Linked DNA regions of Homo sapiens: region 1 is linked to region 2. The links come from fine-mapping of genetic effects on gene expression. A gene starts in region 2. The other region holds a variant in brackets. All regions are shown on one strand. Distances are between the middles of the regions.

What was found. PIP is the estimated chance that this variant, and not a neighbour inherited with it, causes the effect. A credible set is the group of variants that fine-mapping cannot tell apart.
Region 1: its variant is the best candidate, but not a certain one, in a credible set for the expression of SRP72 in whole blood (TOPMed, PIP 0.74).

The regions. Positions count from the first base shown.
Region 1 is chr4:56,491,561-56,496,560 of GRCh38, forward strand. SRP72 (signal recognition particle 72) reads left to right here. Exons shown (of 19, transcript NM_006947.4): 16 at 1-8; 17 at 3,797-3,834. Among named protein-coding and RNA genes, the nearest start is that of ARL9, 12 kb to the right of the region's middle. The variant A/G (reference allele first, on the strand shown) is at 2,909.
Region 2 is chr4:56,464,524-56,469,990 of GRCh38, forward strand. SRP72 (signal recognition particle 72) reads left to right here and starts at 3,094. Exons shown (of 19, transcript NM_006947.4): 1 at 3,094-3,221; 2 at 5,130-5,250. The coding sequence starts at 3,113. It overlaps LOC124900706 (a long non-coding RNA gene), which reads right to left and starts at 3,035. Exons shown (of 2, transcript XR_007058126.1): 1 at 2,569-3,035. PAICS (phosphoribosylaminoimidazole carboxylase and phosphoribosylaminoimidazolesuccinocarboxamide synthase) reads left to right here. Exons shown (of 9, transcript NM_001079524.2): 9 at 1-55. RefSeq lists an enhancer at 2,939-3,148.

The DNA of each region.
Region 1 (5,000 bases), 27 kb after region 2:
GAACAAGGGTAATATTTTTCATTGTAACGTTCTCTAATGCTGATTTTAAATTAGACAAGGAATAAAAAATACATTCTCATAGAAATTTCATGTGAATAAAGTTCTAGTTCTCTTTGTTCCTTTTCCATTTCTCTCACTGTGCCCAGCTCTTTGTCCTTATTTCCTTCCCTTTTCCCTCAGCCCAAAATTAACCTCTGGTATTAATTTAATCTATTATTCCAGAAGTTTTTCTTTGTGTTTACACACACAGATGGTTTACAAATATTTTCTTTAAATTGGTTTATTTATTACTATTTTTTTTTTATTTGTTTGTTTGTTGAGACAGAGTCTTGCTCTGTCTCCCAGGCTGGAGTACAGTGGCACAGTCTTGGCTCAGTGCAGCCTCCGCCTCCCGGGTTCAAGCAATTCTGCCTCAGCCTCCCGAGTAGCTGGGACTACAGGCTAATTTTTGTGCATTTAGTAGAGACAGGGTTTCACCCTTTTGACCAGGTTCGTCTTGAACTCCTGACCTCAAGTGATCTGCCCACCTCGGCCTCCCAAAGTGCTGGGCACCACGCCCAGTTATTTTTTACAGAAGGAGGATTGTATTGTACTTAGTGTTTCCCAACTTACTTTTATTTAATGAGTTTTAGAGATCTTTCCACGTACTAAAATGTGGACCTATTTCATCCTTTTTATGCATAACACTCCATAGGCTGGATGTGCCTTCCTTTACCTTTTAGTTATTGTTGTACATTTAGTACATCATTTAGTATATGATTTCTTTTGCTGATTTGAAGAAAAGGTTAGTCGGCTTCATCTACTTAAAAGAAGTCAGATTTTGACTTGTTTCTTCCATCGTCATCTTAAAAATATAGTTAGCAGAGACCTACAGTAAAATGTTTTAAGATTTTACTTTTGACTCAGGATGAATAGAGCATGGAAAAGATAAAACATTTCCTTAGCTTTGTGACTTTTATAAGTTTTTGCTACTTCCTCCTTTTTTGAATGCCTTTTGAAATCTAAATTTTTCCCTAACTTAAAAAAAACTCAGCAACAATGACTGATTTCTTTCTAACAAACTCTGCATTTCATAAAAAGCATTGTTGTTCTCATAATAACTTCCAAAACTTTTAATAAGGAATTGGAGTCTCAAAGAGGTTACATTGTTCCGAATTCCATTTCATCTTACAATTATAAATTCAGTCTGGGTTCTTAAATGGATTTTCAATTAAAGTATGTTTACTATTTTTTTCTTCCCCAAACAGGGTTGAGTAACTACTAAGGACACGCAGTTCCTTCTTTAGCCTGGCATAGTGGCTCTGTGTTCCAGTTACTGGGAGGCTGAGGCGGGATGATTGCCTGAGCCCAGGAGTTTGAGGCTCCAGTGAGCAGTGATTGCATCACTGCACCCCAGCCTGAGTGACAGAGCAAGACCCCCATCTCTAAAAATAATAAGTTTTTAAAAGTTTTTTTAAATAATCTTTGTTTCTTTTGTTTGTTTGTTTTCTTTTTTGAGACGGAGTCTTGCTCTGTTGCCCAGGCTGGAGTGCAGTGACTCAATCTCAGCTCACTGCAACCTCCGCCTCCTGGGTTCAAGCAATTCTCCTGCCTCAGCCTCCTGAGTAGCTGGGACTACAGGTGCCTGCCATCACGCCTGGCTAATTTTTGTATTTTTAGTAGACAGGGTTTCACCATGTCGATCAGGCTGGTCTTGAACTCCTGACCTCAGGTGATCCACCCGCCTCAGCCTCCCAAAGTGCTGGGATTACAGGCATGAGCCACCAAGCCTGGCTTCTTTCTCTTTTTTCTTAGACAATCATTAAGATATACATTGACTTTTTAAGCTTTTAAGTTTCAGCACAGTATTTTCATTATGCATTATTAATGCTCTTTATTTTATCTTATTAGAAGTTAGTATTTTGTTATACTAACTTGGATGCAAAGGTTTAGTTTCCTTTAACAATACACTATGTGATAGGTTTATGCTAGGTGTTGACCAGAAAATAAATCATGGTACTTGCTCTCAAAAGAACTTGAGCCCTGACATGGTGGTGGCTCATGCCTGTAATCCCAGCACTTTGGGAGGCCAAGGCAGGCGGATTACTTGAGGTCAGGAGTTCGAAACCAGCCTGGACAACATGGTGAAACCCCCATCTCTACTAAAAATACAAAAATTAGCCGGGCGTAGTGACACATGTCTATAATCCCAGCTATTTGGGAGGCTGAGGCAGGAGAATCACTTGAACCCAGGAGGTGGAGGTTGCAGTGAGCCAAGATCTCACCACTGCACTCCAGCCTGGGTGACCGAATGAGACTCTGTCTAAAAAAAAGGAACTTGAATCTAGCAGAAGGAAATATATTTAAACAGTAATTGCAATAAAGATTGCACCTGTTGTGATTGTACAGGGCATAGAGGAGTACACCGGAGGGAATAGTCACTTCTTCCTGAGGACAGTGGGAAGTTAGGAAAGGCTTCATGGAGAAGATGATTGTGTTGACTCTGAGGAAGATGAGGACGAGGTAGGCAAAGGGTGAGCTAAGGCAGAGAAATAAGAAATAGCAGAGAACCCTTGGGAAATTTTAGTATGGCTGTGGAGTATAATTTGTAGGGAGACAATTTAGAATACTATTGCACACTGGGTAAGAGATGAAACACTCAAGTAAGATACAGTATGTTGCATTTCTTATTTGGGGTATCCTGAGAGAACGTTCACAATTGAATGACTTGTAGAATGAATTTTTGGTAGGAATTGTTGTCTCATCTTTTTAGTTCACTGTTTCATATTTCTCGAGTTATATCACATAAGAATATATAGAGAGATGTATTTTTATGTTTTTCTCTTTTCACTAGAGCTTTCAGAATGCTTTTTTTTTTTTTTTGAGACGGAGTCTTGCTCCATCGCTCAGGCTGGAGTGCAGTGGCGCA[A/G]TCTCGCTCACTGCAGCCTCTGCCTCCCTGGTTCAAGTGATTCTCCTGCCTCAGCCTCCCAAGTAGCTGAGATTACAGGCACGCACTGCCACACCCAACTAATTTTTGTATTTTTAGTAGAGACGGGGTTTTACTATGTTGTCCAGGCTGGTCTGGAACTCCTGACCTCAGGTGATCCACCTGCCTTGGCCTCCCATCGTGCTGGGATTACAGACGTGAGCCACTGTTCCCAGCCACTTTCAGAATGCTTGACAATTATTTTGAAGTGTTAATTTTTATGCCCTTTTTAGTGCCTTTTTTGGTCAATGTACTTAATATAGATTTTACTTACATAAAAAAATTAATAAACTCACAGGTTTAAAATACAAAAGATAAAAAAGTGTAAGAGTAAGTAAAAAGTCTTCCATCCGTGTCTACCCACCTCCCTCCCAGGGCCATAACCAACGTAACTTGTTTTGAATCTCCTTCCAGAGATATTCTTTGCATGTATCTTACCTACACATGTTCTTCTGGCAAAAAATTTATTCTCTAAAGTCTTGCCAAACATAGAGTAACTTACCAAGGGATTCTAGGTAGTCATGCTTGTGCAAATTACTTTTTACATAGACTTAATGTGTGCCACTGAAAAACTTTTTTCAGTGTAAACAGAATCTGTTTTCGAATTGTCACCTCTGTTTTCTAAACTACTTTCCAAAAATTATAGTATCTGAAGCTTAATTGACTTTAACCTGAATCAAATCTTAACTAATTTGTTAGCTTTGGTAAGCTGATACCAAGTCTTAAACCATGTTTATGATAAGTGCCCAACTAACTCTTATAGAGCACTTACTTAATGCTCTATAAATATTTTATCACAAAGATGGTAATGATTTTTTTTTCTCTTTGTAGACAGGGAGATTTGAAAAAGAAGAAAAAGAAAAAGAAGGGTAAGGCATTAAAAAAGTCTTTATAAATTTTCTCCAAAATAAATGTTTGATTTTAGCCCTATATAGAAATATTTGGACATAAATATACTGCCCTCCCTTGTATCTTTGAAAACTTTTTATCTTGACTATAGCTAACATTTAATTTTATTCTATTACTTTAAAGATCGCAATTCACTAGTTTGCCTAAATTCAAATCGTTGCTCCCTCTTTTACTCTGTGACTGTGGACAGGCTATTTAATATACCTGCCAGAGTTTTTCATATGTAAAATGGAATATGATAGTATATATCTTGTAGTATTAGATACTACATGTAAAGTTCTTAGAGTGGTGCCTGGCACAAAAGTAAGCACTTACACATTTTGATGTTTCTGCTACACATAACTACAAAATTCCATCAAACTAGCTTAAGAAAATTTACTGTTTATAAAGTTGGCAGTCTAGAGGAATGTTAGCATCAAGGTTGGTTGACTCAGTATTTTTACCTCTTTGTTCTGCTCTCCACAAAACAGAATCCCATTAGAGTCATATGATGTATATTGTAAACAGTCAGGGCCACATACTTGTCATTTATATCCATCACAACAAAGAAGCCCTCTCCAGACTTGGCAAGTATTTCTCATTAATCTGATTGGGCCAAGCAGGTCAGTGTCCAGCCTTGAATTATTAACCAGGGAAATAATGTGCATTGATTGGCTTGGAGTGTGGCTTTAATCTCTGGAAAAATTGGGTGGCATTACCGTGCTTGATTTTACCTAGTCAGATGTTATCCTTGGAGCCACCCAAGTTCCTGAGGTTTTGAGGAATCTATCATATAAATCAGGTTATTTCTTGATTTTGCTCTCTGCCGTCTTAGGATACAGGTTTCCCAAGGCTTAGCTCAGTTTATTATTACTCCTCCATCTGTTTTCCAGCTACCAAAATTTTATTGACAATATCTTTTCTTCTGTCTTCCTTTAATGTGTTTTATTACCATTTTAGTGGAGTTTGAGGAAGGTACACAAGCTAATGTTTGTATCCATTTCACTATCTTTAACTGGAAGTCTTATTGGTTCTTTTGTCACAGTACTTGAAAATTGGCAAACATTTAATATTTGTTTTGTGCATTAGTAATACTGCAAGGAAACAGCTGATGACTGTAGGTGGTAATAACCTAAAATTTTACTTT
Region 2 (5,467 bases):
ACATGTTTATTTATTACCCATCTCTCCCAACTAGAAAATAAATGTATTACACTGGGCTGTCTTCTTTGTTGTCAGCTGTATCACAGCAACTGGTGTAATACACGGCACTGGCATATACAAGACAAACACTTGTCAGATGAATAAAAATGCAAATTCCAGGAGGTAGGGGGACACATAACTACATGGAAGTTAGAGGTGAATAGCATGCAAGGGGGCTAGGAAATAAGTATAGAGACCTATGTGAGTTGGGGAGGTGGCAAGCAGAGGCCAGATCACAAAAGCTCTTACTGCTCTTCTTTGGAGTTCGGATTTTATCGTGAGGGTAGGAAAGTGGCATCAGATACATGCTTTAAGAGATCAGTCTGGTTTTTTTCCCACCATGTGAAAACAGAAGATGCCATCTATGAATCAGAGTGGCCCCTCACCAGACAATCTTTCCATCCTTCACAATGTGAGATGTAAATTTGTTATTTAAAAAAAAAAAAACAAAACACCACTATGGTTTGGAAGATTCCTGTTTCAAAAATGGCAGGTTAAGCCCCATATTTATAGGCTGTTTGCCACAAAACTCCATTAAAATGACATAAGAAATAGAAACAAGTCCACAGCAGCAGAATTCTGAGCATTTCTAAAAGCTACAAAGTATATAGGATTAGAATGATATAGAAACGAAAATTGCCAATTCTTATATAAAGTCAATGTTCTAAAAAGTACTACTAGGACAGTGGCTCTTAACTTTTGGGAGGGGATGGTGGATATAAACACCTTTGGAGAATACAGTGGAATCTACATTTTCTCAGAATAACAAAATACAACAAAATTTTGGGTATACCCAATTTTCTCACACAACATTTTGGGTATACCATGTCATCTGGAGCCCCCACCCCCTGAAATCTAAACATAACTGGCTTGAAACCTGTGACAATTCTAGTCAGTAAAAGTCTAAAGCTCTTCTCATGATTTTTACTAATTCACAAGAATTACACCCTCCAGCACCTAGAGTTCAAGCCACCTTTCATGCTCTTTGCATTGTATATACTGGAAGGACCAGACAAAAATATGGCAGGGCACCATATGCCATATCAGGAGCTGGGCAGTTTCTGCCCTCAAGGAACTCAAGATTAGGCAAGGAATGTGAAACAAAAAATGCCAACTATGTGCCAGGCAGTATGCTAGATCCTAGGGATACTGCAGTGAGCAAGGTAAATATGGTTCCTTGGCCTCAGAACTATAGTCCATACAGAGTGAGATAACCCTTAATTATCAGTGCTCAGAAGTGGAGTCCTATAGGGAGTCTCCCAACCTTTTTGGCACCAGGGACCGGTTTCAGGGAAGACAATCTTTCCACAGGAGTTGGACAGCTGGTTTCAGTATGATTCAAGCTCATTACATTTCCCATTAGATTCTCTTAAGGAGTGAGCAACCTAGATCCTTCACATTCCCAGTTCACAATAGGGTTTGAGCTGTGAGAAGCTAATATCACAGCTGATCTGACAGGAGCTCAGGCGGTACTGCTCACTGGCCCACCGATCACCTACTGCTGTGCCGCCCGGTTCCTAACAGGCTGCAGACCAGTACAAGGGTTGGGGACCCCTGTTCTAAGAGGATGCAACCAGAAGGCTGCCCAGTCTGCAAGATCAAATGTTTCCTCAAAGTAACTTTCAACGTATAACCAGAAAGACTGAAAGACAAAAAGTAGTTAGCAAGGCCGGGCACGGTGGCTTACGCCTGTAATCCCTGTACTTTGGGAGGCTGAGAGAGGGCGGATCACTTGAGGTCAGGAGTTTGAGACCAGCTTGGCCAACACAGTGAAACCCCATCTCTACTAAAAATTCAAAAATTAACCGGGCGTGGTGGCTCATGCTACTTGGGAGGCTGAGGCAAAAGAATCGCTTTAACCCAGGAGGTGGAGATTGCAGTGAGGTTCATCCTGGGTCACAGAGCTAGACTACGTCTCAAAAAAAAAAAAAAAAAAAAAAAAAAAAAGCTAGGTTCCTGAGGGACACAGGAAGTAGTAGAAGTTGTAAAGGTCATGACGAGATATGAGTCTGAAGAGCAGGCCATTCAATGAAATACAACATTCACATCAAGTGAATCACTCACATCGTCTTGGTGTGGTGGCTCATGCCTGTAATCCCAGCACTTGGGGAGGCTGTGGTGGGAGGATTGCTTGAGCCCAGGAGTTCCAGACCAGCTTGGGCAACACGGCAAGATCCCCGTCTCAAAAAAAAAAAAAAATCACTCACATCAAGTGTACCCAACAGATATCCATTCCCTTCGTACATCTGAACACATCTTGATATTAACGGTCGCAAGCAAACCCTAATATTTTATATCTCTAGAACAAATATAGTATCCCCATTTCACAATCGGGAAAACAGACTCCCAGAAGCTAAGTAACTTGTTTATTGTCAGACATCTAGTGAGTCGCAGAGCCAGGGAACTGACCACGGGCATTTTCACCCCATTACCCTTCCAGCTTATTGCCGACTGCTCCCGAAGGGAGCGAAAAGGACAGGCAAAGGGTTTCACCAAACCCTTTGTAATGGGAGATTCTTGCCTTCTTACCTTTCCTCACGTTTGCTTCTCTGCCAGAATGTCTTCCCGCACTTTCCCCAGAACCCAAGTTCTCCTAATCATCTTTCAAGATCCCTTTCCCTCAACCACAGATGAGCCGTGCCTATTTCTCCTTCAAATGACTCCCTATGGCTTCTAGTTGGTAGTCTTTTATTTACCACCTCATAGTCCTTTTATTTATATCCCATAAATGATCGTCCGGCCCCGCACCGTGGGACCAGGACGCTGCCTCGACCATGGCGGTCTCCTGGAAACAGGCTGCTTTGAGCCGAAACTGGTGACCGTTTCCCAACCCCGTCCAGGAGTCCGACGCCTCTTTTCTCCAGGCCAACTTCAAGTGAGGTGTATCAACTCTATCCGCACAAATTTCTTGCCACGAGAGCAGAAGATTATGATCTCTGATGCTGCCTTAGGGCTGAAGACACTCCCAACTCGGCGACGCTTAGCAATCATCGACTTCCTCCTCCTCTTGGCTGCCTCGGAGATCCTGTTCCGGGGCAGAGGTCTCCCCGCCCCGCCCCTCGTCTCCTCCAAGATGGCGAGCGGCGGCAGCGGGGGGGTGTCAGTACCTGCGCTGTGGAGTGAAGTGAACCGGTATGGCCAGAACGGCGACTTCACGCGCGCTCTCAAGACCGTCAATAAGAGTAAGTGTCGGGGTGGGCACTGGGGCGGGCCCAGGCCGGCTGGAGGATGCGGCCTGTTTCCGGCGCGCGAGACCACCTCGCGCGGGAGGCACGGGAAGGGGAGACCCCCGAAACCCCCCCGTCTATTGTCCGCCCGGCTCGGGCCCTAGCGCCCGGAAGACGCAGGTCTCACTCCTCGGCTTCACCAGGCCAGCCTGGGGTCCCTGGTTGCTTACAGCCACGTGTACTTCTCTTTTTACCCTCCGCGGGAAGCGAGGGAAGGTTTTAAAGAGACCGCAGCTCCCGGAGTCCATTTCAAACTGTTTTCTTATTTGACTCCTTTGCTGCTTTATTTCACAAATATTCCAAAGTGCCTCCTTTTCTTCTTCGTCTTGAGCGCAGTGATCAGGACTCTATTGCTGAGGGAGCTTGTTCTCTTTGGCCGCTAAAGGGGGAGGAACCTGCTTGGGACACGTAGTTTAGAGGCTGGTGCTAACCAGGTGGAAGCTGTACGGGTTCTACGGGGCGAGAGGAAAGGGCTGGATCTGGATGTCAGGCCTGTCATTCCCATAGATGAGATCTCTTCAGTGTTATTAAGTTAGGAAATATGTGTGTGGAAGCACCAACACTTGAAATAATGTCGGAAGAAAAGTTTGGCCTGTTTTTTTGCCCTGTAAGGGATGATTTCGGTTTTTACCGCCTTTGGTGTGAGGTTTAATTCATCATATTCTTTTGTTCCTTACTACATACCTGGAATATGGCCATGCTGCTTAATGTTCTCGGTGGTGCGCAGTTCTTCTCTACTGAAGATACAGCCTGTGCATGTTAGATTTGGAAATGTAATTACCAAGGCAGGGCTTAGCTGTTCAGAGTAGCAGTAACCTAAAAGGTGTGTCAGTAACATGCAAAGCTATCTAAGTAATTTTCAACACTCTAGTACTGGGTTAACGTGAAAAGTAGTGATTGTGCCCACAGTGCACTTTTGGTGATTTCAGACATTGAGGAAAATAGCTACGAATTAGAATTATTTGATCCCTAAATTTGTTTGAATTAACTCTAGCCTTCCAACCAGTACTGTATACTTAGTATAGTATTTTGCAGGAATTCTTTAATCAGCAAAGATTGTCAACTTGTTTACCAGTATGTTTTCTTAATTGGTAGAAATTCTTGTGATTCTTTGAGAATTGGACTTCTGTAGTTGCACAGGAGCAAGAGTAACTATGATCCTGGTCATTTTAACACCGAACAGTTGTTAGCGTTGAAACTTGCCACCTGAGTTCTTCCTTATACTTTGGTCATCTTAGTTGAAAAGGGGAAATTTTAATGATTTTTGGAAACGTTGCCAGCAAGATAAATTGCCTTTGTATTATACTTTATAAGATTTTTCCAAAATATTCATTTCATATTGTCAGTAACCTTATTAAATAGGTAATGCTTTTCTAATCATTTTGTAGCTAAGAAAACTGAGATTTGGCTGTTAAGTGATATGCCCAATACCTCAAAGCATTTAGTGGCAAGCTTGCACCAAACCTAGGTCATTTGCTTCCAAATTCTACCTGAACTTTTTCCCTGTGAAGTAATGAACTATGTAGAATGTAGCATGCATTTCAAGATGAAATATCTGGAGAAATTGCTTCTTTCTTCTTTATTTCACTGCACTTTTTTGGTACATGTATATTGGGAATCTTTATCTCATTGAAAATTTAATCTATAACTCTCCTTATTGTCACTTCTTAAGTTAAAAGCAAAGATTAGTTGTTTTCTGGGTTTGTTTTGTTTTGTTGCTGTTTCTTCCAGTTGTTCTGACCAATTATTTCTGTTGCAATAAAAGTAGAAATTTAGCTTTCGGAGAGACAGGGTGGGAAAATTTAGTAAAAATGTGAAAAGGAAATGGATTTAAAAATGACTTTTCCTAAAATTGTTCTCTAGTACTACAGATCAACAAAGATGACGTAACTGCCCTGCATTGTAAAGTGGTATGCCTTATCCAGAATGGAAGTTTCAAGGAAGCTTTGAATGTCATCAATACTCACACCAAAGTGTTAGCCAAGTAAGTGATTCAGTTAGTTGCTTGTACAGTTATTAGAAACACTTACTATAGCTATAATCTCTTCCATGTTTTTTCCCAACTATTTGCTGATTTTTTTTAACGTTTTTTTCCTTCCTTTTTTTCCCCCCTTTTGCTTGTCAATAATGTTTCTGAACTGGAAGGAATACTAGTAACTTCTGTTTTTTTCAGCCTTAGAGAGTTTTTTTTTTTTTTTTTA